2 separate regions of the Homo sapiens genome follow, and region 1 is linked to region 2. A link means that fine-mapping ties the variant in region 2 to the plasma level of a protein whose gene starts in the linked region. Region 2 holds a variant in brackets. A gene starts in the other region. All regions are shown on their forward strands.

What was found. PIP is the posterior inclusion probability: the model's chance that the variant is causal. The UK Biobank Pharma Proteomics Project read protein levels with antibody pairs (Olink). The fine-mapping took linkage between variants from a reference panel, not from the people measured, so its PIPs are less certain.
Region 1: ITGA5 starts here. The variant in region 2 is fine-mapped to the plasma level of the ITGA5 protein (UK Biobank, PIP above 0.99).

The regions. Positions count from the first base shown.
Region 1 is chr12:54,411,670-54,427,336 of GRCh38, forward strand. ITGA5 (integrin subunit alpha 5) reads right to left here and starts at 7,597. Exons shown (of 30, transcript NM_002205.5): 1 at 7,312-7,597; 2 at 165-295. The coding sequence starts at 7,529. The region is part of intron 2 of GPR84-AS1 (GPR84, ZNF385A, ITGA5 and GTSF1 antisense RNA 1); the gene reads left to right. RefSeq lists enhancers at 1-564, 565-1,346 and a silencer at 1-129.
Region 2 is chr2:215,378,374-215,394,040 of GRCh38, forward strand. It overlaps FN1 (fibronectin 1), which reads right to left. Exons shown (of 46, transcript NM_212482.4): 25 at 14,558-14,830; 26 at 13,259-13,441; 27 at 9,839-9,928; 28 at 8,316-8,585; 29 at 6,487-6,603; 30 at 5,647-5,811; 31 at 4,955-5,110; 32 at 3,839-3,952; 33 at 2,438-2,707; 34 at 757-944. Among named protein-coding and RNA genes, the nearest start is that of FN1-DT, 49 kb to the right of the region's middle. RefSeq lists an enhancer at 12,824-14,023. The variant G/A (reference allele first, on the strand shown) is at 8,442.

The DNA.
Region 1 (15,667 bases), not on the chromosome of region 2:
GCCATGGGGATCCACTGTAAGCAGTTGGAGCACCAGAGCTGGTGCTGAGAGGTCACGTGGCCGGGGTTCCAGCAGGCTCCACCCCTCGCCCCAGGCCCCACCCAGGCCTTGCCCCCAGGCTGCAGTCCCACCCCCCAGTCCCTCCCTGAATTTCACTGGCCTACCTTTGCTGTCAAATTCAATGGGGGTGCACTGTGTGGGGCTGGCACCCCAAGGACAGAGGTAGACAGCACCACCCTGCAGCACTCCTGGCTGGCTGGTATTAGCCTTGGGTGCTCCCACCAGCACACTGACCCTGTGGGGGGGAAAAGCGAGGCAGTTGAGGATGGCTCCTAGCTTTTCATTGGTGTCTGGAGGCAGGAAGGACCCAGGCCTCTAGGCTGGGGCTGGCTGGGGGTGGAGTAGATGCCCCCTGCGTTGTATTTATATCTCAGAAGATGCCACAGATGCCAGAGGCACAGGCTGGAGTCAGGCGGTCCCCATGTGCCGCTGTCACTAACACAACCCTCCCCTCCTCCCGCCATTCTCTGTCCTCTCCTACCTTATCCTGTTCATAAAGAGAGGAGGAACCACAGTCAATTTCTAGAAGGGGAAGAGGGGCCAGAGCCTGTACCCCTGGCTTCTCCCTCTCCTCTACGTACCTGCTGAGATTAGATGTATAGCTTCTGGAGCGCCAAGGTCCTGTGGAGCCTCAGGGTCTCTCATCTAGCCTATATACTCTCCTCCCAAGCCAAATCCCCTCCCTGGGCCAAGACCCAGGCATCCGGCTGCCCAGCCACCCAGCCTTGGGGCGTGTAGGAGGAAAATGTGAGTCTTGGAAATCAGGCAGCAGGAGTGGAGAGAGGAGCTGGAGGACAGTGAAAACAGATTGTTCCACTGGGCCTGGGCCTGCCCTCACCCCGGCCCTGGTGTGGGCCTCCCCTTCCTGGCTGGGTCTGTGTTTCAGCCCTTGAACCCCTTTCCCATAGACCACCCCCAGCTGACTGAATTCAGAGTCTGCTCTACCGGGGTCCCAGTTCTGGACACAGTGCTTCTGTTCCCCCTGATATGAGGGGAAGTTTGCCCTGTGTAATGGGGTGGTCATAGCTAAGGGCCTGGGCAGTCCTCCTGCCGTCAGCTCTGCCTCATTCATCCCTAGGTCTCTTGCCTCCAAGACCTCCACACCGCTCTTGGCTCTCTTGGTTTCCCCTAAGGGTCTCCTGCCAGGACTTGTATCTGGCAGCCTGGGCAACTCGACCCAGCCTCTGGACCAGTGCTCCTGCCAGCCTTGGCCTCTGCTCTGCTCTGTGTCTGCCTCTGGCACTGCTTCTCAATCCCTCTGTCCCTCTGCCCCTATGACTGCTTGCTCTCTTGGTTTTGGTTTTTGAATCCTATCTCTCTATCTCAGATTTTACATTTCTCCATCTCTATTGGTTTCTGTTCACTTTCAGCTTTCAACCCGTCCAATACCTACCCTTTCCCTGATATTTGAATACCTTCCTCAGCTTTCTCACTAGGCAAGAAGGCCCAAAGTGAAGGATTATGGTAGAGGTCACAAGAGCTGGGGGTATTTTCCAAGAAGACCAGGTATACTGAGGCGGGGAGGAGTGGCCCAGGAGGTATAGGGGATGGAAGCAGCAGAGAGGACAGGTCCGAGGGGACGGAAGAGGAGAGTGAGGAGGGGTCTGTGAGGGCCAGTGGTGAGAATGGAGGGGAGAGAAGGCAGGGTCCAGAGGAATAGGAGATGGGTAGGCTGAAGAGGGAGAGCTCCTGAAGTTAGGAGGGGTGGGGAGGGGAGGTGCCAGTCTCCGTTACTCTGGGGACAGGAAATGTTTACTGCCTGTGGCTTCCTGTCTGTTTCCAACCTCTCACTTCTCCGTTTGTCTCCCACACCCCCACCTCCGTGCCAGGCCCCACCCTTCTCACTTAGGCATGACATCCACTTGTGGGGTCTGGCTGCACCGCCCTAGGGCTGGGTGATGTGAGAGAAGGAGACCCCTCTCTCAGCAGGGGCAGCCCCCAGAGAACTTGGTTGCTGCCTTCAGGCTCTAGAAAGCAGAAAGGGCCACCAACCTGAACTAGACCAGAACAGCAGAGGTACAGGAAGCAGTGAAAGGAGCACTGGACCAGGAGCCAAGAGTTCTGGTTCAGGCACTAACTGTGGACTTGGGCAATACCCTCTCCCTCTTCCTCTGGGTGAAGAAGAGGTTCTCTCAAAGTTTCCTGGAGCACAGGGCTAAGGCCAAGGGACCCTATTCCTGCTGCCAATTTCTCCAACACCCACTGCTCTTGGAGAGGAGCTGAGCCTGACACTCCTGGGGTGGCCTGAGGAAGTAGCCTGGAGTTTAGCAGGGTTGCAAGACAGAGAGTTTACAAAGCTTGTAAAGCCCACAAGCCAGGGGCATATCCATTCCGGCTGTGCGATGGTTCAGGATACCTGGCATGCAGGCAAGGGACACAGACCTAGGCCTCCTTTCCTCCCGGCACACTACCCATGGCTTATTCCTGGACAGGCAGTGGCCCTTCCATCCCAGCAACCTAAAGTCAATCCAATAAATAGTGCCTCCCCTGCCAACACGCCAAGTGAGGTGACTGGTGCCATGGATGGCATGCAAGCTAGTTTGTCCTTATTTTCCCACATCTTTTTCCTGCTTCCTAAATCCTGCAGCAGTTGGGCACTTTTAGGGGTCTAAGAAGGTAACAATGGAGGGTCCGTGTGCTATTTTCAATATTTCAGAAAGCCTAACGGAAATCATGCATTTACCAGATAAGGTGGCCTAGGCTAATTAAAACCTCAAGTGTATTTGCTTTTGGCTGGAATTATATCAACTTATGTGGGAACCTGGTTATCTCATGCTGGTCAGAAACTCTGATTGGCAGCTATAGATGTTTTTGGTTAATAAAAAATGAGAAAAGCGCCAGGTGCGGTGGCTCACGCCTGTAATCCCAGCACTTTGGGAGGCCGAGACGGGCAGATCACGAGGTCAGGAGATCGAGACCATCCTGGCTAACATGGTGAAACTCCGTCTCTACTAAAAATACAAAAAAATTATCCGGGCGTGGTGGCGGGCGCTTGTAGTCCCACCTACTAGGGAGGCTGAGGCAGGAGAATGGCATGAACCTGGGAGGCGGAGCTTGCAGGGAGCCGAGATCACGCCACTACACTCCAGTCCAGAGACAGAGCGAGACTCCTTCTCAACAACAACAACAACAACAACGGCCAGGCGTGGTGGCTCACGCTTGTAATCCCAGCACTTTGGGAGGCTGAGACAGGCAGATCACCTGAGGTCGGGAGTTTGAGACCAGCTTGACCAACATGGCGAAACCCCGTCTCTACTAAAAATACAAAATTAGCTGGGCGTGGTGGCACATGCCTGTAATTCCAGCTACTCAGGAGGCTGAGGCAGGAGAATCGCTTGAACCAGGGAGGTGGGGGTTGCGGTGAGCCGAGATTGCGCCATTGCATCCCAGACTGGGCAACAAGAGCGAAACTCCGTCTCAAAAAAATAAAAAATAAAAATAAAAAGAATGAGAAAAGGAATTCATTATTTCTTACTAAATGCAGGTTGGCAGGTACACTTTTCTGAAATAGAGTCTGAGAGAAGAAATAACTGCCAGAATTTATTCTGAAGCCTCAGAAATGGAAGGGTTGGTCCTTGGAGACACAGACTACCACAGCTAGAAGGCACTGTAGAGAGCATCCACTGGTTTTAAGACTTCACTGTAGGTGCCTGAGGCCACATGGCATAAAGGCAGACTGGCCTCGTTCTGACACTCCCTAAGAAAAAGTTCAAAGCTGCTCACCTCGTCCCATGTTCTCATTCTGCAGATGGGAAAACTATCTCAGAGGAGTTAAGTAATGGGCTTAGGTCACTCATAATCCCTCCCAGAATATGAAGCAGAAATCAGGAATCCTGATTTCTACGACAGCATTCTAGTCTACCCCATTGCCAACTTATTCCCTCCTCTCATATCTGCTATCTCCCCAGCTTTTGATTAACCAAGTCCCAGTTCAATACTGGGTTACTGTTTGACTCTGTTGGCCTGACAAGGTCAGGGGTGGAGAGCAGCAAGTGGACCAGCGCCCAGCTCCTACAGGTCCTACAGCAGCATGGGCCAGGCCAGAGGAGGACACCTGGTTTGGGGTCCCCTAGTGCATTCACAAGGGATATGTATGATTGGCTGGGGAAGAACAGCTGTCTCCACTTGTGGCAGTTGCAGAAGGGAACAAGGAGCTGAGCTGAGACTGGCCTGCCTCTCAAGCTTTCAAGTGTCCTGGGCCAAGTCACTGCCTCTCTTCAAGCTTTGGATTCTCTGGCATAAAATGATGGATTTCCCTTGAATGTTTCCTAAACTAACTTCTGGTTCAAAATTTCTATGACTCCTGAAGCCTCAGTTGTTTTTATTTTTTGTTTGTTTGTTGTTGTTTTTTTGAGATGGAGTCTCACTCTGTCGCCCAGTCTGGGGTCGCTCAGTACAGATGTGATCTCAGCTCACTGCAATCTCTGCCTCCCAGGTTCAAGGGATTCTCCTGCCTCAGTTTCCCGAGTAGCTGGGATTACAGGTGCGTGCCAGCACGCTCGGCTAATTTTTTTATTTTTAGTAGAGATGGGGTTTCACCATGTTGGCCAGGCTGGTCTCGAACTCCTGACCTCAGGTGATCCACCCACCTCCGCCTCCCAAAGTGCTGGCATTACAGGCGTGAGCCACTGCACCTGGCCAGCCTCAGTTTTTGTATATCTAAAAATGGGGCAATAATGCTTCCTTTGCTTTAACACAAGGATTTTTGTTACAATCCAATGGAAAAATCGATATGAAAGTGCTAAAGGAATATGACAGACTATTGTTACTATCACTAGTATAAGCAAATACTCAAAGCAAGTAAGAAATGAGGGAACTAGGCGGTAGCCAGGAAGGAGAGAACCAGAAACAGAAACAGCTACCCCATAAAAACCATGCCGCCCATGTATTGATCACTCTCTGTGGACCAGGTTCCTTTTGTATATGTTTTCTCATTTAGTCCTCAGAACTCCGTTAGTCAGGTGTCTGATTTTCACGGGAAGACCAGGCTCCAAGAGCTTAAATACCTCTCCCTAGGTACTAGGGTACCACGCAAAAAACTAGTAAGTAGTGGGGACTCACACCTACCTCTGTCTGACTGAAAGCTTTGCCCTTTCCTACCATCTAACTGCTTTGGTGCTCGCCCTGTCCTTTAATACTATTTTGGTGTTCACCACAAGAGGTGATGCAGGAAGAACAAGAACACTGAGGCTCTCCCTCTTTGGCAATGGCTGTAGGTGAGGGGCTGTGTTTGTCTTGTGTTGTGGGAAAGGGGGTGAAGGCCTAGCTGTGGTGGGAGGAGGTCACTGGGGAGGTAGAATGTTCCACTGTAAGAGGGTATTGTAAATAGGAAATGAGAGGGAAGGAGTGCAAGCTGGACACCTGGGTTCTCTTGGGAGGGGAGATGAGCAGAAGGGGAGGGGGAAGGGATGAGAGAGCTAGGTCCTGTTTTAGAAGAGGACTTTAGGGACTACAGGATCAGGCCAGGGGCCAGACAGACACCTAGGGGACCAGGAATGTGTGAAGTCCAGATGTTTTAGAGGAGTGTTTTAAAGGGAAATTTAGGGGAGGGGGGAGTAAAGAGAAGGTTAAATGCCAGACAACTAGATACTCTGATCTGCGGGAGGAGACCTCATCCCCTTCCTCCTTCCCTCTTTTCTACTCCATTAGGGCTGTGATAAGAAGTTTGAGGGAACCTGGGGGAGACCAGGCCTGGCAGAGGCTCCAGGCCAGGGTGATGATGCAATGGGGTTTGGGCAAAAGGCCAGGGGGGTGGGGTGGGGGTTGGGTGGGGACCTTGAATAGCCCAGAACAACAGTCGGGGCCTAATCATTTTTCTTTTCTCCCATCCCCAAGTCCTCCAGACAAAGGAGAATTTGCCTTTCTCCCCAGTTGTATTAGCTAGATTAACCCCTTTTCTCCAAAAACTATAGGGACTGAGTAGAGATCAGTTAACTGTCTCATGTGTAAAAACAGGTCGCTTCTGACAGAATTCCCCTCAAACCCTGAGATCCTGGGGTTGGGGTGGGGGTGAGCAGTAGGAAGCTCCCAGCTCAGAGATGTAGAAGAAAAAGGATTACACCAGTCATTGTGGAGGACCAGGAATCTGGCATCTATGGCCTAGCCCAGGAGCAACCACCTACCTCTCTTGCTTCCCAATCTCCCCGCCATCCCACATTTAAACAGACACCCTTGGTTCTAATGTTGCTTCCACTCTAACTCCTGTTTCCCAAGCCTGTCAGTACCCCATTTTCTAGGCACTCGGGGTCCGGGTCTGCTTATCACTGTGCTGAGTTGGGAATAAGGATCCTCCTTTGAGATTTCCAGGGTCCTGAGTCCTTCATTCTGACGTTCTTGGCCCCACGGAGCCCCCGTCTCCCCAGCTTCCGACCCCAGCCCCAGAAGTCCCGGTCTCAGCACAGCTCCAGCCGACCAGCTACAGGAAACCAGCTTTTCTCTTCCTCCCAAGAGCCAGAGGAAGAGGGAAACCGCCCACCCCCCTTCACGCGCGCACACACCCCTCCCGACACATCCCAGCACCCGCCCTTGGCTGAGTTCGCCCCCAGCCCCAGGGCCCCAGTGCCAGGGTCCCCGCACTCGCCCCCAGTTCTCGGATCCCCTCGCCTGAACAGAGATTGGGGGCGGAGGGAGGAGTAGGAGACAGAGGAGAAAGGAGAGGGAGCCGCCGTCCTCTCTCGGGTCTTTCCCCGGTCTGAGTTGAGGGGGGAGGGGAGGATGAGGCTGGCCCCCATTTAACCTTCCGACCCCCTCAGTCTTTGACTTTCCTCCTACTACACGTAGCTCATTCGGCTTCTACCCGTTCTCTCGCCGCACAATGGCCCCTACGGATCCCGAGGTCTCCTGGAGCCCCCAAAAGCCCTTCCCGGCCTCTGCGCCCCCTCTGCGCCCCCACCCGCCCCAGGTCCCAGCAGCCCACAGACTTCAGCCAGAGACCCTCAGCTCTCCATTCACGCGCTCTCCTCTCCCTTGGCCCGGAGACCCCTGCCCAGACTTCTCCAGCTCCGTGTCCTCTCCCCACCGGACACATGTCTCCCCACTGATCTCAAACGCCAGGGCCCCTCCTCACCCGCCACGGTGCCCTCCCTACTCCAGCGCGGGCCCCCAACTCTAGCCAGGGCCCCCAACTGCAGCTCTATTCCTTACAAACTCCACCCTCAAACTTAAGCCCTGGTCCCCTCCAGACCCCAGCCGCGCCCCCAGTCTCCAGGCGGCTCCCCCACCCCCATCCCGTCTCCAGCCCTCCTCACTCACCCGTCTGTTCCCGGCCGGTAAAACTCCACTGAGAATCCGAAGAAGGAGCCCGGGGGCCCCGAGAGTACTGCTGGGGCCTCCGCGTCTAAGTTGAAGCCCCCGACCCTGGGTGGCGGCGGCAGCAGCAGCAACAGCAGCGGCAGCAGCGGGGGTCGGCGCCGGGGGCCCCAGCGCAGCTGCACGGCGTGGAGAGGGGACTCTGGCGTCCGGCTCCCCATAGCGCCCGCTCTTCCCTGTCCTGGGGCCACCGACCCGGAGCCGCTTCCTAAACCTCCCAGAGGCGAATGACTCAACGCGGGGAGGAGTTTGCCAAACTCCCGGCTGAGCCCTCCCCCCGCCTGCCGAGGGGGCTGGCGGGGGGGCATTCCTGGGTCCCTGGAACTCTGAGCCCGCGTCCCCCACCCCTAAGGGGCGTGGGGGGGGGGCGCACCCCTCCAACCCCCTTTCCCCAGCCCCAGCTGGAAGCCGGTTGTCTGGACTGGGTTAGACTGGGCGGGTTTGGGTTCTTCCCCCTCCTCTCTGCTTCCCCCTCCTTCCTCCCCATTCCTTTCCAGATGTACAACGTAAACGCTCGGAAAACGAGTCGGAAAAGGGAGCGGAGAATTTCCTAATGAGGAAAGGAATCACCTCTGGTGGGCGGAGGAAGCCTGTATATGTGTGTGGGGTCTCCCTCAGTGCTTTAGGGAGGAGACTTTGGGGTCTAAAGAGACAGGAGACTCCTCTGGCGTCCGGCCAACTGGGATTCCCCCTTGCCTTCCGGGGCCGCCGGGTGCCTGGGTTCTGGCCAGCTGGATTTGGGACACAACAGTTGAGGTACAGAGACAGCGTTCGCAGTCAGCTTGCTAGAGGACCTACACGGGCTCCTCAAGTTCCGCTGCTTCCTCCTCCAAGCTTGCTAGTATTGAAAACCCAGGAGTTTGGGGTCATTCATCAGGAGGATTCTGCTCCAGTTTGCCCCCTTCTTGGTCCTAGGGTATGTAAACCTCTGCTGAGCCCCTTCCTTGGATCTGACAGTTGACCAAAAGCCTGCGAGTGGCTGGCCCCTCAGTACCTGCTTGATTAAACTGGCCGGGTTCCTACAAACCTGGAGAATTGTGAGAGGTGGTGGTGGTGGTGGAAAGTCTTGCAAAGGGACCCAACCTTCAGCTCCTAATGGCTGTAAACGCTGGGAGCTCTGGCCAGGCACGGTGGCTCACACCTGTAATCCCAGCACTTTGGGATGCCGAGGTGAGCAGATCACCTGAGGCCAGGAGTTCAAGACCAGCCTGGCCAACATGGCAAAACCCATCTCCACTAAAAATACAAAAATTATCCAGATGTGGTGGTCCGCACCTGTAATCCCAGCTACTCGGGAAGCTGAGGCAGGATAATTACTTGAACCCAGGAGGCAGAGACTGCAATGAGCCGCGATTGCACCACTGCACTCTAGCCTGGGTGACAGAGCAAGACTGTATCCAAAAAAAAAAAAAAAAAAAAAATCCAAAAACCAAAAACCAAAAAAACAATGGGAGCGGAAAGCCAGGACCCCATTCTTCCCAGATTCCCCTGTGGAAGTAGAGGAAGGGACTCTAGAAAGGGAAGGCAGTGACCCCCTGCCCACCTCTTCCCCAAGCTCAGGCTCTGTGTGATGAGATCACTTTTCAGGATTCTAGCCTTTATCTTAGTCTGGGGGAGGGGACTACAAGTCCTTTCAGTCTCTTTCCTCCAGGACTCCTCACTTTCCAGAATAATACCCTGTCAATAATATCCTGTCAACCCTGTCCCTTCTGTTCTCCAGTCCCCTGCCCCACTTCGGGCTGAAAGGCTCAGAATAAGAGTGCCCAGAGTCAATGTTTTTTTCCTGCCATGACTCTCCCCCTCACTCTGCTACTCCACTTCCTGTCCCAAATCACCCATCTGCTTTTTTAAAAGCCCCCCTCCAGAGCCAGCTGCAGCCCAAGGGAGAGGCTGGCTGGCCAGACTGTGGGGCAATGCTGGCCCGTATCCCATTCTCACATCTGCAAGTCCTGACCCTTTCTTAGGTGAGGAACCCAGGGAATCTCTGGGTCAGGATCTTTAAGCCCAGCATTGCCAAAAAGGCAACCTTTAGGTGAGAGCTACTCAAGCCATGGGCTGGGAACCCCCTTTGGGAGGAGAAGGGCTGAGGCCTGATTGCTTTTTAGCCCAGCAAAACACGTGTGTGAACCAAACACTCTCCTTTCTCAGTCTAGGCAAACTCTTTAGATTTTCCCAGGATTTGGGAGATTAGGGGTGGGGGTGGGGAGGGGTGCAGGGAAGGAGGTGTGTGACTCAGCTCCTCCCAGGAGCCTTGGTGGGGGACAGGGGACATAGCGTCCTGCCCCAGTCCTCCTCCCCACTCCACCCCTAGCCTTGGCCAACTCAAACAGGCCCCCTCCCTGTCCATTCCCTGCTCCTGTTTACACCGGGAGCCCCTTAGTCATTCTTTGGCTGGCCTTTCTACTCTCCCCAATATCCCTCCTCTCTTGGCTCTTTCTGCCCTTATAAGTCCTCTCCCAGTGGCCCCAACACCTCCTGCCTTTCCTCTCACCATGCCTGCCTTTGCCTGATCCTCTCTTCCTCTGCTCTGGGTTCGTCCTTAACTTGGGGTCCCCTCCTAATTAGAGCTACTTCAGCACAGACCTCCAGGCCTGGAAGCTGACCTAGAAAGGCCAGTGAGGAGGGGATAGAAGCCATCAGTCCAATCTTCTCCTTCAGAAGAGGAAATGGGTGTAGAGAGATGAAGTGATTTGTCCAGGGTCATATGGCTAGCCAGTTAGCGGTGAGCCTAGAACCTAAGTGTTTAGACTCCAGACCCAGTGCCTTCTCCTCTAAGCCCACTGCCCCTCTAAATGATCTATCTCCTCTCAGCTTTTTCTTTCTATCTTGTATATCTCTCAGCCTTTCTCTGGCCAAGTTTGTGTGTCTCCAAGTGCCTCTGCTTTTTCTCTTAAACCTGACCTCTTTGGTACCCTCTGTCCCTTCATTGCTCAGTAGGAATGATTTGCTGTGATGACTGACCATTATTAATCATGGTCTGCTTGATGGAGAGGAAGAAGGGTGAAGGGCAAGGCCAGGACACTCAGCAGGCTCCTGTTGTCGCCAGCCTGCTTGCCCTGAAGGCTGGAGTTTTAGAACCACAAGAGTGAATTTCCACAGAGGAGTTCAGGATACAGGTGCAAGTTCTAACGCCAGGGGTCATGCTGAATTTTAGTAGTGTGGAAGAGGGGTGGGGAGTACTGATAATGGTTTATTTAGCACATGCTGTATTCCTGGCCCTGGGCTTGACCTTTAATCTGCCTCTATCCCATTTATCCCAACTTATCCAGCACTGAAGGTATCATGATCCTCATTTTACTGTTAGGAAATCGAAGCCTAAAGGAGAGAAGTGACTAAGCGAAGGCCAACAGAAAGGGGCAGAGGTAAATCCAAACCCAATCCCAGTAGATTTCAGAGCCGTTGCTTTTCCCACTGCAATGTCAGCCCTGTAAACCGGCTGGGTTTCTACAGAGGTATGGGGGAAGATTCTAGAGTAGGAATTATAACCTAGATCCATTGTCCTTGGGGTGGGGTGGGGGAAGATTGGGTATACAATCCATTAATCCTCTGAAACTGGATGGAAGTTTTTGTTTATATGCATGTGATTTCTCTGGGGTGAGACTCAGTGGCTTCTTTAAGATTCTCAAATGCCTGGAAATTCTGAGAACACTAAGGCTGGATGCCTTGGTTTTAAGAAACAGACTCAGGTCTTGTTGGGCTGTAAAAAGTCTGATTGGGTAGAGGTGGTAGAGGCTGAGGTGTCCATGAAATAAAACTTCCTAGGCTGGGTGCAGTGGCTCATGCCTGTAATCCCAGCACTTTGGGAGGCCATGGTGGGTAGATCACGAGGTCAGAAGTTTGAGACTAGCTTGGCCAACATGGTGAAACCCCGTCTCTAGTAAAAATACAAAAATTAGCCACGCGTGGTGGTGGGTGCCTGTAATCCCAGCTACTTGGGAGGCTGAGGCAGGAGAATTGCTTGAACCTTGGGAGGCAGAGGTTGCAGTGACCTGAGATTGCACCATTGCACTCCAGCCTGGGTGACAGAACGAGACTCCATCTCAAAAACAAAACAAGACAAAAACAAACAAGCAAACAAAGAAGTTGGATCTCACAGAGGGAAGGAAGGTGGGATATTTAGGAAAATTATGAAGCTGAAGGCGGGGGTGGGGGGATTTCCAGAAGTAGAATAGGAGCCCAGTTATACCAGGATCCAGAGACTGCTGAAGCTGGGGAGTTGTTCTGTGTGTGTGTGCGTGTATGTCTAAGAAAGGGAAATTGGAAAGTACAGGAGTAGACCATTTGCACCCTCAGGCTCTGTTGCTTCTCTGACTCAGGTCTCTGCCTAGAGGAACTGAGGGCTCTATCATCTGTGAGTCACCTCCACCATCCCTACCCGCTGTCTGACCCAGGAGAAACCCCTCCCCTGTGTCCTATGCCTAAAATAAACCCAGGCTCCTCTCCTTTTTCTATCCCCAGTTTGCACAGAGCACAGGAGGGGTGGATGGAAGATGTTTACTAGGGTGACAAAAGCAGACCTTAGCAATAAGATTCGTGGGTTCTATTGTTGCTCCAGGACTCCGAACCCAGTGATTAAGACTGTGACTAGAGCCAGATGTCGTGGCTCACGCCTGTAATCTCAGCACTTTGGGAGGCTGAGGCGGGTGGATCACCTGAGGTCAGGAGTTTGAGACCAGCCTGGTTAACATGGTGAAACCCCGTCTCTACTAAAAATACAAAAAATTAGCTGGGCATGGTGGCGGGAGCCTGTAATCCCAGCTACTCAGGAGTTTGAGGCAGGAGAATCGTTTGAACCCGGGAGGTGGAGGTGGCAGTGAGCCGAGATAGCATCATTGCACTCCAGCCTGGGCGACAGAGAGAGACTCAGACTCAAAACAAACAAACAAACAAAAAAAACCTGTGACTAGATACCTCTGTGGAGACCAAACTGGGAGTTTTTCCAGGCGAGACTAGGTTGGAGAGGCACATGGAGACAGGGACTAGGGGATGGGCACTGACAGGAAAGGAGCAGAGCTAAGAGGACACTGGGATACAAGATATAAGACCCAGGAATCCAGATTAAGCAGATCAATGGGAAGGAATTTCCCCCACTCTTGCTAATGTCTTCTCTTCCAAAAGTTCTTCAGTTTTTCTTATTTATTTATTTATTTATTTATTTATGGCATATTTAGAGGCACCAGAATGCTATGGCAAAATGTAACAACCCCAGATAGGAAGTTAAAAGGAAAATAAGATCCTCTGGGGTGTCCTAAGCATTGACCTCATTTTATTTGCTTACTCATGCCACCCCCATGACTTTCCTTTCTCTCCCCTTTGCTGCCTTGTACCTACCTCTGGAGAGGAAAGGGGTGCCTGAATCTTCTCAGCTCAAAGGCCTGGCAGTCAGAGGAGAGAACCATCCGGGGTGGGAGCTGTGGGTGGGAGTGTCAGCTTCTTGGGATGGCCTTCCCAGATGTAAGCACATCTGGAGCCCATCAGGAAGGGACCTGGAGCACCAGGATTCCCAGTGCACATCCGATTGGGGCTATGAGGGGTTGAGGATGAGCCAGGCGTTCCCTCCCACCTCCACAAGTCTGCCTGCCATTTCCAGCCCTCTCTTGGGAAGGATTATCAATCCCAGACAGAAAGGGCATTGGAAAGAGGTTGGGGAGGAAGGCAGGAGGGCCACCGATTGCACTCCAAACCCAGACATGCTATGTTACTAGCTTCAGCTCTTTCTGGCTTTATAGAGATAACAGCATCTCTGATCAGGTAGGAATCAGGGTGTGTGTGTGTATGTGTAGAGCATAGTGTGCCATTAGTCCTTAACACAATGGCACAAAGTTGGGGATGGGGCACAGCATGTCCCTCTCCTTGCTTTTCATAAGTCTTCCTCATGAGCTCTCTGGACCTCTGGCGCTCCTCATCTCTCTACCTCCAAACACATACACTCCTTCCTTGGCTGCAAATTCCTCCCTGTCCATCATCACCTCACAATGAGCACATTTGTTTTCCAGAGATCATGTACAGGGCTAAGAATAGGTCCATCCCCTTGCCTTTCTCTTCAGGGAGAGCTAACCTGTTGGGGTGCTGAACTAGGGGATAAGTGGGGTTTACAGAAATTCCTGCAAAGGTTCCAAGTGTCCCCAGCAGCCAGTGCATAAAAGTAAAATGGAGAGTCTCTGGGGCTGAGATTTATGAGCCCAGTAATATGGAGCACTCCTGGGAAGCAGAGCCCCCTCCTTTTCTTCCAGAGCTATAACTTGAGGAGGAACAAAGCCTTAGAAGATTCTTAACCCCTGGACTCCAAGGTTGAGGCTTACTAAATTGAGATAATAGTATAAAAGAAAGTAATGTTGTATACAGTTTATACATTCACAATTCACAAGTGATTACTTCTGGGTCTAATGTACAAAAATATATTGGACTTCCTACCTTACCTGCAGTAAAGGTTGAATTGCATTCTGTCCTTTGAATACCCACACCCCCGACCTCTGGCCTCAGTCCTTGATTGGACTTCAAAGCCCTAAGGGAGAAGCCAAGAGGAGGAGCTTTCTGACCCTTCAGTTTATATTCCTTTCAACAGATGTCCAGCAGTTGGGAGGTTGGGTACCCTCTTCCAGTCTCTAATCTACATGTGGCTAGAGGGTTCCAGATGACAGAATTGTGGAACTGGGAGGTAGGGCTAGGGCTTCCAGGTCTCTGAGATAGAAAAGGGGTGTGTGATGAGATTGACCTGGGAAGAAGAGAAGTTTGGGGTTTGATTAAAGGGCTGGGTGCCTAGGAACAGGAACGGTGGGATGGCACTCCAAGCTTTCACCTCTAGGGAGAGTGGCCCTCCCTTCAGGCCACACTCTTCCATCCAGTCGGCCAGGGCTGGCCACACCCCCACAGCTGGCTGGGAAATCTCAACCCTACCCCTCTCTACAAGCCAATTGCTTACAGATGTTCTAGGAAGGGGGGTTGTTGAGAGGAGGAAGGGCAGGATAGGGGTAAAGGGAAGGAAAACTCAAGGAAAGAGGGAAGACTCATGGAAGGGAGAGAAGAAGTTATGGCCAGGTGGGGAAGCCTGTCAGATGGTGAAGAAGTCAGAGAGAAAGAAACAGTTGAAGAAAGAAAGAGAGAAAATGAAAAAAGGGTCTCATTTTCCCCTGAAATCCACCCTACTCTTTGCAGGCAAATTAATCTTCCTAAACCAAGGCTCTGATGATGTTACTTCTCAGATCAAAACCTTTCATGGCTCCAACATTTTAACTACTAAAGATCTGTCTGCTCTAAGATTCCTAGAATTGTGCAAGGGACATTAACTAATAAGTGCCATTGATCTAAGTAGTATATATTTTTGAGTGCTTACTATGTATAAAGCTCTGTGGGCTATGCTGGGGAGAAAAAGGAGGGAGAAGGAGGGGGAAATGGGTGAGGTTGGAGACATAAATAAGAGCAAAGAGGTAGACAGAGAGGGTTCCGCGAGAGGAAAAGACAGAGGGGCAAGGGATTGGTGAAGGAGAAGGGGGTGGAGGAACCAGGAAGGAGGATCCTAGAAAGATGGTAGGAGAGAGGAAAGGAGAAAGGAAAGGGGAAGCGCATAATAGAGATGGGGGACAGAGGGAAAGGAACGTGAGGAGAGGGAGGGCAGGGGTGCAGAGTCATGGAGAGTGGGAAATATACTTTGGAAGACTGGATGGAGAGACTAATCCTTTCCTCCTGCCAGGTCAGGAACTCTTCATTGGCCAATGAGAGGCAGTGTAACACTGGTCTGCTCCTTCCTCTGCCACCCCCAGCTTCCCATTTAGGACCCAGCTTTCTATGTCCTTTGTCATTTTGGGGTCATTGAGTTGAATCTATTCTTGAGTTCCCTGCCCTCCCACTCCCACCCCGGGGGACCAATTTCTGAAGTCATCTTCCCCCCACTTATTACACTGCAACCTAGTCTCCCTTGTCTTTTTTGGTCCATCTTTGGATTTATTTCCCTGAAGTGGGTGGGCAGGAATGAAGCAGACTAGAGGTGCTTCCAGATCTGTTCCGCCCTTCATCAGTGTCCACCCTTCCCCTCTGAACCAGTCCAAGACTGCGACATTTGTGTCAGAAGTCCCTTTGGCCCCTTTCCTGCTCCTGAATCCCTGGAGTGGTATTTGGAGGTGGGAGGAGGGGTAAGGTCCGAAGTGGAAAGTCTGACGCTGAGTCCAGGCCCCCAGCCCCACTCAGACTGGCTGAGCTCATCTCTCCAAGCAACCGCAGCTGGACATTTTCCATGTGATCACCTCAGGGAGGGGGGCTGGGTTCCAGAAACCCAGACAGAGTTGACTGAGTATCACAGCTT
Region 2 (15,667 bases):
CAGCAAAACCCACAACCTTGAAAATTCCTAGATTAATTTCATTCCTACAGTGCAGGTGATAAATGTATTTATCAATTTTAAAATGCTCTTAGCGGTTAAGCTTAAGTAAGCCATAGATTATATACTTAAACTAAGCTGGTAAAAAAAATGAGAAAAGTGGGTATTAGCGTATTTTTCTTTTTTATGATCTGACAGGTGTAAATCATAATTTTTTCCTTATCATAGAGAGGCAAAGAGAATGTTCCATTTTGTCTCTGAACCCTCTTTCTGTAGTTTCCCCTGAAATTGGCCTTATGTTAAGAGGTACATCAGTCCCCTAGGTTCCTAGCAGTTTTCTGCATGTATGTCTGGAAGGATTTTAAAATGTTTTAATGAGGGTAGGCTCAAGGTAGACTGGTACAAACTGTAAAATATTCTTTACCAAGGTAACAGAGCTCAGAAAATGCATAACTAAGTCGATTTATGCATTCAACCAATGGATATGTAAATTGCCCCCCACAACCTTTTAAAATAAGCACAATACATCTAAAAGAGCTGCACAAAATCCAAAGCTATTTATAAAATTCTGTCCCAATAGTCATCTGGAAAACTTAGGTCAACATAAAGGAATTCCGTTGATATAAAATTACAATAAGATTATTTGATGCAGAGGAAAAGAACAGTTAGATTTATTATGATATTATATTTTCACCACCTTAGAAACTGTGTTAGAGATGATCTCCATCTTTATTCCAATGAACAACGGTCATGTCTTACCATAAGTCCTGATACAACCACGGATGAGCTGTCAGGAGCAAGGTTGATTTCTTTCATTGGTCCGGTCTTCTCCTTGGGGGTCACCCGCACTCGATATCCAGTGAGCTGAACATTGGGTGGTGTCCACTGGGCGCTCAGGCTTGTGGGTGTGACCTGAGTGAACTTCAGGTCAGTTGGTGCAGGAATAGCTGTCGAGATTGTCATTGGTTAGAGGTTATCTTATAGGAAATGGGGGAAAAGGAAAATAAAGTGAGTTCCAAGAAGTAGAATGGATTGTTCTTGTTGGGCTAGGTGGGTTCCCTGGTCAAGCAAAGATTCAGTACAAGAAAGTACGTACAGTAAGGGATGCAAAATGAAGAAAGTGTTTGCTGAGAAATGTGTTTTATATCCACCAATTCTCAGAATCACTGAAAACATTTGGGTAAATGCCAAAACTCTAAGAGATTTTAGGTTTTACAAGTTTTGCTTTCCCTTAAAAAAAAAAGTTACATTGGCTTATTGGCCATTATGATTTATTTTACTTTTGTATGGAAAAATAAGCAATGGCCCTTTTTCTTTCTTAAAATTGTTAATTAATTAATTTAGAAACGGTCTCTCTGTGTCATCCAGGCGGCAGTGCAGTGGAGTTATCATAGCTCACTGCAGCCTTGAACTCGTAGGCTCAAGTGATCCTCTACCTCAGCCTCTTGAGTAGCTGGGACTACAGGCATGTGTCACCACACCTCGCTAATTTTTTCATATTTTTTTGTAGAGACGGGGTCTCACTTCATTGCCCAGGCTGATCATGAACTCCTGGCCTCAATCAGTGCTCCCGGCTTAGCCTCCCAAAGCACTAGGATTACATGTGTGAGCCACTGCACCCGGCCTCCTTTTTCTATTCTACATAAAGTATCTTTGTATGGATAACCATTTCACGCAGTATTCCATCCAAAAAAGAGAGAATAATGTTTTTATTGTCTCTTTATTTGGACCCTATGGCAGATATGGCTGCTAAATTTGACGTTCTCTCTGTAATGCGGCGTAAGAAGAAAACTGGCTCCCAACAGAAGCAGAAAAGAGAAGCGAAAAGCAATAATACAGACTGTCACCTCTAGGGTTTATGCTGTCACTAGGATACATCTTTAGCATTCTACTCTGCTTCAGAAATAAAGCACAAGAAGATAAAGTATTATGGAAAGCAATTGCCCTATTGATTATTTCCTAGGTGTCTAAATCACAATCATTTAAGCTAATTATACACCAGCATATGATATCTAACCAGAGAAGAAAGGTCTTACCCACGTGTGCTCAGAATCATGCTGCTATGAAATGCCCGAGTTTGGGTTCCTTTTTATAAGTAAGCTCTGTAATGCCAAACTTCTTTTCTTTATACATAGTGAGGGTAATCACAGGGAGTCAGAGCTTAGGAAATAATCCACAACTTTAGTATCCTCTTCAAATGTCTTGCTTTATGGTCTTGTGTATAAGCCAGGATACTCCAAAATTTCTTTTAATCAGACTTGTTTCCTTAAATATCACCTAAGTTTTATTGTTTCTTACCATTCCTCTTTAAAGAGGATCTTTCCTAATAATTCTTTTTCACCCTTACACGGGAATCAATAGCCCAGTGAAGCATAATTCATTCAGTAGGGCATAAAGCCGCTGCTCCCATGGGCACCTGGTGGTGCAATTAACCATATACCTGTGGACTGGGTTCCAATCAGGGGCTGGCTCTCCATATCATCGTGCAAGGCAACCACACTGACTGTGTACTCAGAACCCGGTCTGAGGCCTTGCAGCTCTGCAGTGTCTTCTTCACCATCAGGTGCAGGGAATAGCTCATGGATTCCATCCTCAGGGCTCGAGTAGGTCACCCTGTACCTGGAAACTTGCCCCTGTGGGCTTTCCCAAGCAATTTTGATGGAATCGACATCCACATCAGTGAATGCCAGTCCTTTAGGGCGATCAATGTCTGTTAGGCAAATTAATGGTAAGAGGTTATGTGAAAAGCAAGTTGTGAAATAAGCATTTTTATAACATGCAAAGCAGTTTTGCAGATACCATTTTCTTTGATGAAGTCCAATTAACCCACTATCAAAAGGAAAAATCACTTAAACACTTGCTTAATTTTTCTTGGTTTAGAAAATATGCAATGTTGCATCACTTATTAAAACATAGGTGTATGTGAGATAAGCAGATACCCTGCAAAATGTCCCCACAATGGGGATGTATTTATATTAATTTAAAGATATTCTACCACGATTTGATTTTTACAATGTGATGTTAGTCTCATAGACCTGGATTTTCTATACCTTGGAAGTGGTAAAGCTGATTTGCAATGTCAGATTCAAATTGTTATAATTGTTTTGTTTTGTTTTTTTTTGAGATGGAGTCTCACTCTATCACCTAGGCTGGGGTGCAGAGGCATGATCTTGGCTCACTGCAACTTCTGCCTCCTGGGTCCAAGTGATTCTTCTGCCTCAGCCTCCTGAGTAGCTGGGATTACAGGCACGTGCCACCGCGACTGGCTAATTTTTGTATTTTTAGTAGAGATGGGGTTTCACCATGTTGGTCAGGCTGGTCTCGAACTCCTGACCTCGTGATCCGCCTGCCTCAGCCTCCCAAAATGCTGGGATTACAGGCGTGAGCCCAGCCCTATAATGGTTCTTACACTCTTCTTTTCCCCTCTCTATTAAGCATTTATATTACACTCTGGTCCAGCCATAGCCCTTCAAATGCCCCAAACATAAAGCTACATGAGGCACACTTCAATCAACTTTACCATCCAGTTGTAGAAAAGACGGTCTAGGAAAATTTTTTGTAGATTTGCTATAGGCAAATAAGATTTCGCTGAGGCCATTTGAGCAAAAGAAATTCAAAGCACAGCAACTAACTATGGTGGTTTCACAACTTCTTTCTCTGTAAATTCCTCGCTTGGCACTGAGAAGGAAAAAAGATGTTCGTAAAGGGCTCAGCTCAAGACATAAACTAACCAACAAGTTCACTTTCCCTATGTGTAATTGCAAAAGACATGTCGTGGGCATTCAGACACCCAAGAACAAAATTTGACTTTGAAAATGGAAACCAAGCAGTGGTTACGTACTGGTTACTGCAGTCTGAACCAGAGGCTGACTCTCTCCGCTTGGATTCTGAGCATAGACACTAACCACATACTCCACTGTGGGCTGCAAGCCTTCAATAGTCATTTCTGTTTGATCTGCAAAGGGAGTGAAAAGCAAATGCAACATCCACGTCATCCACTATAAAGTCCTCAAGTGGCGTCTAGAGTTTGGTAGTAAACATATGGTGGCCTAGAATTTTTATTTGCAGAATTGTAACAAAAATATGGAGAGTCAGACTTTGATTTCCTCTTGGACAAACCTGTTCATTGCTAATACAAATTACCATATGGGAGTGAAGTCACACTCAAGGATAAGATCTAAAACTTAATATGATGCCCCCAACAATTAGTGATACTGCTCTCAGAAAAAATGAAAATTAACTTGACTCTAATAAATTGCCTTAAGATCCTAATTTCACAAGTATTCTATTTAAAAACAAAGACAACATAGCTAAAAAGAGCTGAAAAAGTCAGTTAGGCCATTTATCTCTTCTTAGTGTGAATGATAAACAAAACCAGAAGGGTGAATCTAGTAATTTAAGATGTCCATATCACTAAATAGAACTATCCATGTAAAAACAGAAATGCACTTAAGACTTCTACTGTGAAAAGGGTTGATAATGATCTTGAGCCCTGAACTCATGAATGGGGACAATGATGACATAGGACAAAAAAATACATAGTACTCACAACAAGGTAGCCATTTATATAAAAAAGAATATTAGGTGGTCCTACCCCATCTATCCTGTTGTATATGAGATGCAGATTACTCTTTTTTTTTTTTTTTCCCTGAGATGGAGTCTCTCACTCTGTCACCCAGGCTGGAGTGCAGTGGGGCTATCTTGGCTCACTGCAACCTCTGCCTCCAGACTTCAAGCCATTCTCCTGCCTCAGCCTCCTGAGTAGCTGGGATTACAGGCACAAGCCACCATGCCCAGCTAATTTTTTTGTATTTTTTAGTACAGACGGGGTTTCGCCATATTGGCCAGGCTGGTCTCGAACTCCTAACCTCAAGTGATCTGCCCGCATCAGCCTCCCAAAGTTCTGGGATTATAGGAGTGAGCCACCGCACCTGGCCGAGATGCAGATGATTCTTACCTGGACCTGCAGTTTTAGTTTTTGTTGGTCCTGGTCCATTTTTGGGAGTGGTGGTTACTCTGTAACCAGTAACAGGGGAACTTGAAGGCAGCCACTTGACACTAATGCTGTTGTCCTGAACATCGGTCACTTGCATCTGGGATGGTTTGTCAATTTCTACAAATAAAAGCAGGGAGAAACCAGTGAAGCCCCAGTCCTTGGAGACAAGATTGGACAAGTCCTCCTCTCTAGGTCTGGTACATATTCGAATGATCGCTTACATGAGAAAGGTATTTCTTCTCGAAAGAATACAGAGAGAGCTTTTAGAGGGATGGGGCAGGCATCTCAATACCATTTCCTATTTTTGAGATGGTTGCTTCATTCACAAAGAAGCTACATTCCACAAGCAGGTGTCTCTTCCTACTTTATCAACTCATCCATTCTTTTCCCACAAATACTTACTGAACACTCTCTATGCCTGTCGTATTGCAGACATGCGGAATATATCGACAAAACTGACTGAACTTCCTGCCCTTGGGGTGCTTCCTTCTTTATCTGGCTCAAAACTCTGTTCGCTGCAGGTGCTAGCTGCAGGTTGTTGCTCATTAAAAAGGAAAATCTATTCTACAATTAGAAAAATACCTTGGGAGAACATTGCAAAACAGTATCTGAATAAGTAAAAGCTGGTGTCACCCCAGAGTAGAAGTTTGTACCTGTTCGGTAATTAATGGAAATTGGCTTGCTGCTTGCGGGGCTGTCTCCACGGCCAGTGACAGCATACACAGTGATGGTATAATCAACTCCAGGTTTAAGGCCGCTGATGGTAGCTGTAGACTTGCTCCCAGGCACAGTGAACTCCTGGACAGGGCTATTTCCTCCTGTATGAAAAAGGGTTAGTTCAGAGTGTGAGGGGTTTAGAGCTACTTGGGTATTACTGATTAATTGAATTACCACATTTATAGCAGCATGTAAATCACATCTTCTTGCTTATTCCCTTTTAAAGAGCGCTATCTTGAACAGAAAGGGGTATTTATGCATGTAGCAAACCTTGGTAAGTGTATAAACATTGAGAGAAAATTACAGTTAGCGCTGTTTTAACATTTCAGCTTTAAAATGTCACTGAGTAGTAGAGTAGCATTAGAAGTGGGAGAAGGTAAGCCCTCAACCCAGGATTGCATGCATTGTGTCCTTTTTAAAACTTTTAACAGAATACATTCCTTTTAAATAAAATTTGGAAAATACAGAAAAGTAAAGAGAAGAAAAAATAAAAATCACTTATTTCCACCACTGATAATATGTTTGTGAATTTACAATCCTTTTATTTCCTCAGCTCTGCCGTTCCCCCTCTAGTTGTAGTATATAAACAACTTTTTATTTGGGTTTTAGAACAAATTATATCATCTATATCTTACGTATTTTCTTGGAAAAAACAAGGGCTCCGTTGAATGGACTTGCCAAAGTTTCTTTAATTCTTTGTTCACTGTTGGGCTTTCAGGTTATCCACAACAGAATCTGATTTAATCAGAGTGTAAAATAGCATTTTACTGCTGTACCTGTCTCTCCGTAAGTGATCCTGTAATATCTCACTGTGACAGCAGGAGCATCCCAGCTGATCAGTAGGCTGGTGGGGGTCGCAGCAACAACTTCCAGGTCCCTCGGAACATCAGAAACTAGAAAAAAAAGGGAAACTTTTCACATCCGTAATTTTCAAACAATATTCAGATTTACTGTTTGTTCATTTTCCAGATAATTGTCTTAATGATTCTTCCATACAATCATGTAAATACTACGTGTAATTAGCAGAATTTTATATTATGACGAATTCAAGATAAGGGGTTACAGAGCCCATTCAAATTGTGATAAAATGATTATTTCAAATTTGGGGAAGAGTTTTTTTCCCTCAACATTTTATTTGGAAAAATTTCAAAACTACAGAAAAGTTAAAAAAAAAAAAAAAAAAAAAAGTGATACAAGGCCGGGCGTGGTGGCTCACGCCTGTAATCCCAGCACTTTGGGAGGCCGAGGCGGGTGGATCATTTGAGGTCAGGAGTTCAAAACCAGCCTGGCCAACATGGTAAAATCCCATCTCTACTAAAAATACAAAAATTAGCCGGGCGTGGTGGCGGGCACCTGTAGTCCCAGCTACTTGGGAGGCTGAGGCAAGAGAATTGCTCGAGCCTGGGAGGCAGAGGTTGCAGTGAGCCAAGATCCCACCATTGCACTCCAGCCTGGGCGACAGAGCAAGACTCCATTTCAGGAAGAAAAAAAAAAAAAAAAAAGTAATACAATGAACACCTATATACCCTTCCCTTAGGTATTTGTCTCTGGCTTGACGACTTGAGACTAAAATACAGATAACATGATGCTACTGTTCCCGTAAGTACTTCAGCCTCTATCTGCTAAGAACAATGACACTATTACCCTAAAATTATATTTTTAAAGGTACTTTGAAACAGTGTTCAGTTTTCCACCTTTTTTTTTTTTTTTTTTGAGACAGAGTCTCCCTCTGTCACCAGGCTGGAGTGCAGTGACACAATCTTGGCTTACTGCAACCTCCGCCTCCTGGGTTCAAGCAATTCTCCTGCCTCAGCCTCCTGAGTAGCTGGGACTACAGGTGCATGCCACCACGCCCAGCTAATTTTTGTATTTTTAGTAGAGACGAGGTTTCATCATGTTGGCCAGGATGGTCTCGATCTCTTGACCTCGTGATCCACCCGCCTTGGCCTCCCAAAGTGCTGGGATTACAAGCGTGAGCCATTGCGCCTGGCCCTTTTTTTTTTTTTTTTTTTGAGACAGGGTCTTGCTCTGTCACCCAGGTTGGAGTGCAATGGCCTGATCTCAGCTCACTGCAACCTTCGCCTCCCAGGTTCAAAGATTCTCCTGCCTCAGCCTCCCCAGTAGCTGGGATTACAGGTGCATGCCACCACACCTTGCTAATTTTTGTATATTTAGTAGAGATGGGGTTTCACTATGTTGGCCAGGCTGGTCTTGAACTTCTGACCTCAAGTGATCTGCCCATTTCGGCCTCCCAAAGTGCTGAGATTACTGACGTGAGCCACCCCGTCCGGCCAATTTTCTACATTTTCAACAAAACTTGTGTTATTAGAAATGCATAAATACCCAAATCAGGTGAGAAATTTCTTGAGAGGAAAAAAATTATCTTCTTTACTGCCACCACGCCCGGGCTTCTTTACCATATTCTAAGGAAGATGTTTCTCCACATTTTCTCACTTCCCTCTCCATGTACCATGACAATGATCTATTTTTTTTTTTTTTTTTTTTTTTTTTGAGAGCTGATGACAGACAACAGCAAGCTACTTTACAGAATCTACCAACTGGGTAGGAAAGTCTTCTGAGTTTCTTTGCAGACAAGAAAAGTTACCTGTTGATTGTTGGCCAATCAATAAGGGACTTTCCTCTCTGCCATTAAGAGCAACGATGCTGACCACATACTCTGTGCCTGGAGTGAGGTTGGTGAGGGTGATGGAATTCCGAGAGTGGGGCACCC[G/A]ATCTTCTCGAGGTCTCCCACTGAAGTGCTCGGGATGATGGCGGATCCTGTAGCCAGTGATGGTGGCTCGAGGAGCAATCCAGTGCACAGTAAAAGAGTTGGCAGTAATATCAGAAAAGTCAATGCCAGTTGGGGAATCAAGACCTGTTTTTCCCACCCGGGGGAGGAAGAGAAAAAAAAAAGAAAAGACACCACCAGTTTAGGAAGTGAGGAAGGTGTAGGGGAAATTAACGTACATCCAACATTTCGTTCCTGTCTCATCAATACCATGATTTGCCATAAACCAAAGAGTAAGATGTACTGATTCTAAGCTACATATGAATTTTAAAATCTTAAATTGACTCAATTCAAAATAGCCAGCTCAAGCATTCATTTTTTTCTTGTGCTAAGTAATTCAAGCAGATTTTAGGGGTTATTACAGTAAGTTTCTGTGTCACATTTGGAGATAAGTGTTCAAGATCTTCTGAGAATTGACATTTTCAAATTCTTCAGTGTTCAAGTATTCTGTGTTTCTATCCTGTAAGTGTATCCTTCCAAGTAAAGCAAGATCTGCCCACTCTCAAAGTAAATGTTTGACTCTCAGAGAAGCCTCCTAAGCTCAAGAGGAAATTTATATGTCAACAGAGTGGTAATGATGCCAAACACAAAACTTTCTGAAACTAAAGACATTATCCCAGACAAATTACAATGCTGATAATTCCTCGTGAATTGACAGTTTTGAAAAATGCATTTTTCAAAAATGCACAAAAATTCAGAGTTTGTTGCAAATTCAAATCACTTAGTCTCTGGGACTTCCAGCAAATTTCTGTTTCAGTTACAGCATTTACTAGTTCTTTTCAATAAGAAACCAAACTAAGATATCATAAGTCCTTTTTGGAAGCAAGTGGACTATAAATAAATTAATGAATACACTAAAGTGTACCTTTTGAAAGAAAAAATTAAAAGCATTCATATTTAAGTATGTAATATTTATGAGATTCAATTCAACTTCCTTCTAGTAAATGCATATTTTATTAAGTAAAAAGAAAATGTAAACTTGCTGGCTTAGTAAAGGAAGACAAATAGATGACAATGAGTGTTGGGTCAGCCATTAGACAGAGCTGCCTAATGAAAAGGAATGTCTGCTAAATCTAAATAACAAAGATCTTCTTAGAAAATGTTTTTTAAAAGGACAGACAACAAATTTCTTAATTTGTTAGTGACTGAAAGTCTAGGTGATTGTTGAGTAAGGTATCTTTTAGTTTTTGAGACCAGCGATAAAATCATACTGTGATGACAAAGGTACACACACCATGACAACAAAAAATGGAGATGTATTTTTAGAAGTAGCATTTCATTTGTTATACAGAATTGATAGGCAAAAGCTACTGGATAGTCATACTGCCAACACCACTCACCTGTTTTCTGTCTTCCTCTAAGAGGTGTGCTCTCATGTTGTTCGTAGACACTGGAGACACTCACTACATATTCTGTACCAGGCAGGAGATCTGTAGGGGCAAATGGGGCTTATTTTAAAACTCTGCTCAAAAGCATGAGAAACTAAAGCACGCCCAGGACTATTTGAACTGATGAAATATCCAAATGTCCAGTCCTATAGCCTACTTACACCTAAGTGAACACTACAGCGAAGTGTTCAGTGAACAGACCTTGAGAAGGTCTGTAATTAGATGATAAGGAAGGGTCACCTTGCCCCATGGCCTCTCGAAGCCCTCCATTCCACCTGTGAGTGTGACTCAGCTGGATTTCGAGTGGGATGAAGTTGCTGCAACAGCTGGATATTTCTCGCATCCACCTGAGAGTATGTCTCTGGAGGGCACATGATAATCCTTGCTGTGGTGCTGTGGATTGCCATTTATGCCTCACAACAACCCTGGAAGGTAGTTTGCTCCTTTTAAAAGCAATTTCTTGTCATACAACGTACTGCATATCTTTAAAGTGATGGGTTTTTACATATGTGTGACTTGGGAGACCATCACCGCATTCAAGAAATGAACAAACCTATCACCTCTAAAAATTTGATTTACTACAATTATCTCCATTTTGTAAATGAAAAAACAAAAAACAAAACAAAAAAAAACTGAGGCACAGAGAAGTTATCTTCTTTAATTTACTTGCCCAGGATCATACTGGGATTGACCCAGGCCAGGACTAGTGGTCTTAATAATTAACCTTTACTGGAAAAAAGCCACACTTAGAAAGCAATCGGTTCTGCCATATTAAAATGAGAGCAGAATATTTTTTAAAAAATTAAATATACATCCCTGAGTATCTTGTTCCATTTTTTTTTATTTTTATTATTTTTTCTTTTTGACGAGGTTTTACTCTGTTGCCCAGGCCGGAGTGCAGTGGTGTGATCTTGGCTCACTGAAACCTCTGCCTCCTGGGTTCAAGTGATTCTCCTGCCTCAGACTCCTGAGTAGCTGGGATTACAGGTGCCTGCCACCATGCCTGGCTAATTTTTGTATTTTTAATAGAGACGGGGCTTCACCGTGTTAACCAGGCTTGGACTGGAAATCCTGACCTTGTGATCCACCCGCCTTGGCCTCTCAAAGTGCTGGGATTACAGGCGTGAGCCACTGTGCCCAGCTTCTTCTTCCATTTTGATACACAGTCAGGCATAGCTTAATGGTGGAGATACATTTTGATAAGTGTGTGATTTGGTGATTTTATTGTGTAAGCATCATAGAGTGTACCTACACAAACCTAGATGGGCTTGTAATCCCAGCACTTTGGGAGGCCGAGGAGGGTGGATCACTTGAGGTCAGGAGTTTGAAACCAGCCTGGCCAACATGGTGAAACCCCTCGTCTACTAAAAATACAAAAAAATTAGCTGGGCGTGGTGGCTCACGCCTGTAATCCCAGCTACTCGGGAGGCTGAGGCAGGAGAATCACTTGAGCCTTGGTGGTGGAGGTTGCAGTGAGCCCAGATCGTGCCACTGCACTCCATCCTGGGCAACAGAGGGAGACTCCGTCTCAAAAACAAAACAAAACAAAACAAAACAAAAAACCTAGATGGTAGAGCCTTTGACACACCTAAGCTATAAGCTATGTGGTCTAGCCTATTGCTCCTAGGCTATGAGCCTGTGCAGCATGTTACTGTACTGAACACTAGAGGCAACTGTAATATATGGTAAATATTTGTATATCTAAAAGATACAGAGAGTGAGGTTTCTAAATTTGGAACTCCTACTCACTAAACCCTCATTCCCCTGCACACCATTTGCCCTTCAGCGTTTCTATAAAGCCCCCTACAAAAGTTTGGAAAAGTGCCAGAATGGAGGACCAGATGCCTGGATTCCATTTCCACCATACTAGCTGGCCAGTGGCAATTTACTTAACTGCTGGGGACCTCGACGGCTTCATGTTTATTTGTTTGTTTATTTTTTTGAGACAGGGTCTCACTCTGTCACCCAGGCTGGAGTGCAGTGGCACGATCATGGCTTGCTGCAGCCTCAACCTCCCCAGGCTCAGGTGATCCTCCTACCTCAACTTCCTACATAGCTGAGACCACAGGTGTGCACCACCATGCCCGGCTAATTTTTGTATTTTTTGTAGAGACTTGGTCTCACTGTGTTGCCCAGGCTGGTCTCGAACTCCTGGGCTCAAGCAATTGGCCCACCTCAGCCTCCCAAAGTGCTGGGATTATACAGGCGAGAGCCACTGCACTGGTTTGCTTCATCTTTAAAAGAGGATAATAATGACTTTGCTAGGAGGGAGAGGGGCTACCCTGAGGTCATCTGTAGCATTAGGATTATAATAAGGTCTTAGAACACATGATTAGCATGTGACAGGTCTACGGCTAAGGGACAGACATTGTGATGCAGGGGCTTGTATACTGGGTGATGCTGTAATTAGTGATTCCAGGGTGCTCTAGAACAGAAGCAACAGCCCTGGGGTGGTGGATATGCCAATATAAAGATATTCTTGCCCTCAGCCACAAAGTAAGAAACCAAGATTATGGTCACGCTGAGCTGCTCTTCTTTGTGTTTCATTATCTAAATTATGTTTGAAAGGTAGATGTTTTCAGACTAATACTTGGTAATGTACCTAAATGTAAGCTATTTTTCCCTTATGTAGAATCTTTTGCTGTTGTTATATATTTGACTATTACAGTGAAAATAATAAAAAGCACTGTTTATGTGAAACACAGCACCATCTTGCAGCCTACTGTTTTATTCTTTAACAAAAGATGTCTATTCTATAATGGTTGGGACTAGAAAGAGACAATTTCCATAAATTGTTGTTATTTATTTAATGTCAGTTTTTTTTCTAAGCTCTCAGTCTTCTGAGAAATCCTTCTAACAGATTCTTTTTGAAGTACAAATTAAACTTCTGACTCTCTTCACAACAACATTCTAATCTAGACCAAACAATCAGTCACTTTTCTAAGTATTCAAATCCTAAATCAATCAACTGCTGACACTTTTTTTATAAAAATGAGAATAAAGCACATATGGTGACACTATTTTCAGTTCTCATTTTTTTCTCTAAAGATTTAGATTTAGTCATATAATTTCTCTTGATATTCACTTATTTTTACGTGCTTATTTAGAAGCAGAATTTGTTTGAAGTCATGGAACTTTCCTGCAGGTGTTTTTCCACTATGATTTTTTTAAAGCTGTAGATATCAAAAGTATATTAAGATAGCAACAAACATTACATCTTTCAAAATTAATGGAGCTGTGCATTGAATTCAGAGTTTAGTTTGTAGCTTGGTTGCAGCTCTCTTGCTCTTAGCTCCTCCTACTTGAGAATTTAGAATTCATTTGCTATGCTCTAGGTTAATATTTATGGAACAGATACATTCAACTGCTTACTTGTTAAGACCACTGCATTGTCTGAAGGAGAAATTGACAACTCTGCAACATCTTCCTCATTTTTCACAGGTGAGTAACGCACCAGGAAGTTGGTTAAATCAATGGATGGGGGTGGAGCCCAGGTGACACGCATGGTGTCTGGACCAATGTTGGTGAATCGCAGGTCAGTGGGAGGAGGAACAGCTGGTTTCGAACAAGAAGGAAGACTCAGTTAATGTAATTTTAAAATTAAAGCTAACGAAGTAGCTGGAAAGGTAAAATCAATATTTCATGCATAAAGGAAACAGAATCATAATCATGCAAACAGTCTAATCTAAGTCTATTTTAAGTTATAGTGTACTACTGTTAAAAATAAAACACTACACACAGTACTGTTAGGCCCCCTTTAACCTTTTTGCCATCATTGATATATTTAAAAAAAATTTTAATCTACTTTCAAATATGTTGACTTTATGTACATTATTAATACCACTGCAGATTATTTTATCCCAGGCCGAAGAGGCTTAAGTTGCCACACAGCAAAGAGAAACATAGCAGTACTTTACAAAGAAATACATGCACACAGACAAAAAGACAAGAGGGTCCTAAACTTCCCCCCATGTGAGATATCTAGAGCTACAGTTCCATTCAGTGAATTCTACTTACAAGTGAACATGTTCATGCAAATTGGTTCTCAGCATGTTTCTTTTCCCATGCACAGCAGAGAACCTTTAAAATGTTGCATGCTTGTCCCCAGACTGTGGTTAAAGAGGTGTTTCTTTACCTAGTGACAGCAACAAAACCTAGAATGCTCCCAAGTTTACTTTTCTCCTACCTCAAAACAATGCCCATCCACTCTACCCTAAATTTTGATGGGTTTTTAGCTACAAAGAAGGAGCATGGTAGAGTTTATCAAAGGGTAGAAGGAAGATCATGATGGTACATTTTGGTGATATATTTCTTATAATTAATTGGTACTTACGCAATTTGGTATTCGTGTTTGGTATTTAAGACGAAAAATTCTAGGTCTTCAAATTGAATGAACATTTGCTATTTTATATTTAACAGAGCAGACATCTGTATTTCTCTAGCTTTATATCTACTTGTGGTTTAAATGAGAGTGTACTGAAGAATACTTGCATGTGTTTTTCTCCAATCAGTTTAGCAGATGCATTTGATTCCTTATCCCCCCAATCCACCCTATCTGAATCTTTGGCCAATTGCTGACTTCCCCCATGAAACATCCATATTTAACCGGAGTAACTGGTGGCAGCATGCAACACCATCTATGTCTCAAACGCAGAAGTTTTCAAAATTCACCCGTTTGTTGTGTCAGTGTAGTAGGGGCACTCTCGCCGCCATTAATGAGAGTGATAACGCTGATATCATAGTCAATGCCCGGCTCCAGCCCTGTGACTGTGTAGTATCCTACTGAGGAGTCCACAAAATCTTCAAAAATAGGGATACCTTCTCCTGCCGCAACTACTGTGATGCGGTACCCAATAATGGTGGAAGAGTTTAGCGGGGTCCACCTCAGGCCGATGCTTGAATCGGTTATATCAACAAAGCTTAGGTCAGTGAGTTGGGGCACCTCTATTGAGTTACAAAGCAAAGGGAGGGGGAGGCAAAAGGAAAATAGAGGGAAAAAAAGAGGAAAAAATAAAGCAGTGTATATCAGGTTACTAGTAGTAAAATTGGTGGAATGTTAAAGCAATGATGGTAATATGCAATCTGTTTTAAATTCTCTGAAAAGACTTCCTAAGCATCATGAACAGTTTGCTTCCCTAGAAGAATAAACAGGAATATTCTTTTAGGGAATATATATATATATATATTTTTTACATTTTGAAAACATCCTTAAAGGGTACAATTTGAACTGTTCAGATTCCTAAAAATCATATGGCTGTTTAGGATGTCAAAACCATTCTTAGAGCCTAGACATAATATCTGAAGTAAGTATCAGCAATGCTTTTAATAATTCCAAAACTGTTTTAGTAGAAAATAAGCTTGCATGAAGAAGGTTAAAAAATAATAAATGGGTGATAAATTGATTTTTTTTCTCCCATACAAAACTCATGACAACATCATGGCCATAACGCTAATGCATTATGAATGTATGGTGTGAAATGTGCCATTCAAAAGCACATTCAGGCTGAGGAAAGACAGGCCTAAGGTTAAGGCCATTGCCACTATTTTAGTTCATTCATAATCAAAACATGTAATTAGCGTTAGTAAAAGCATTCTACTGAAGAGTCCAAAGGGGGACACGATCTGTCCAATGCTTTCATTATGTTATAACCCAATGGACAAACAAGCCTATCCTTAGACAGGCCTTTGCAATGTTGTCTTTCAAGCCACAAGAAAGAACACCCTGAAGGTGTGACTTTTACTTCTTTTTTTTAAAATCCAATTTTCAAAAAGAAGGATTTG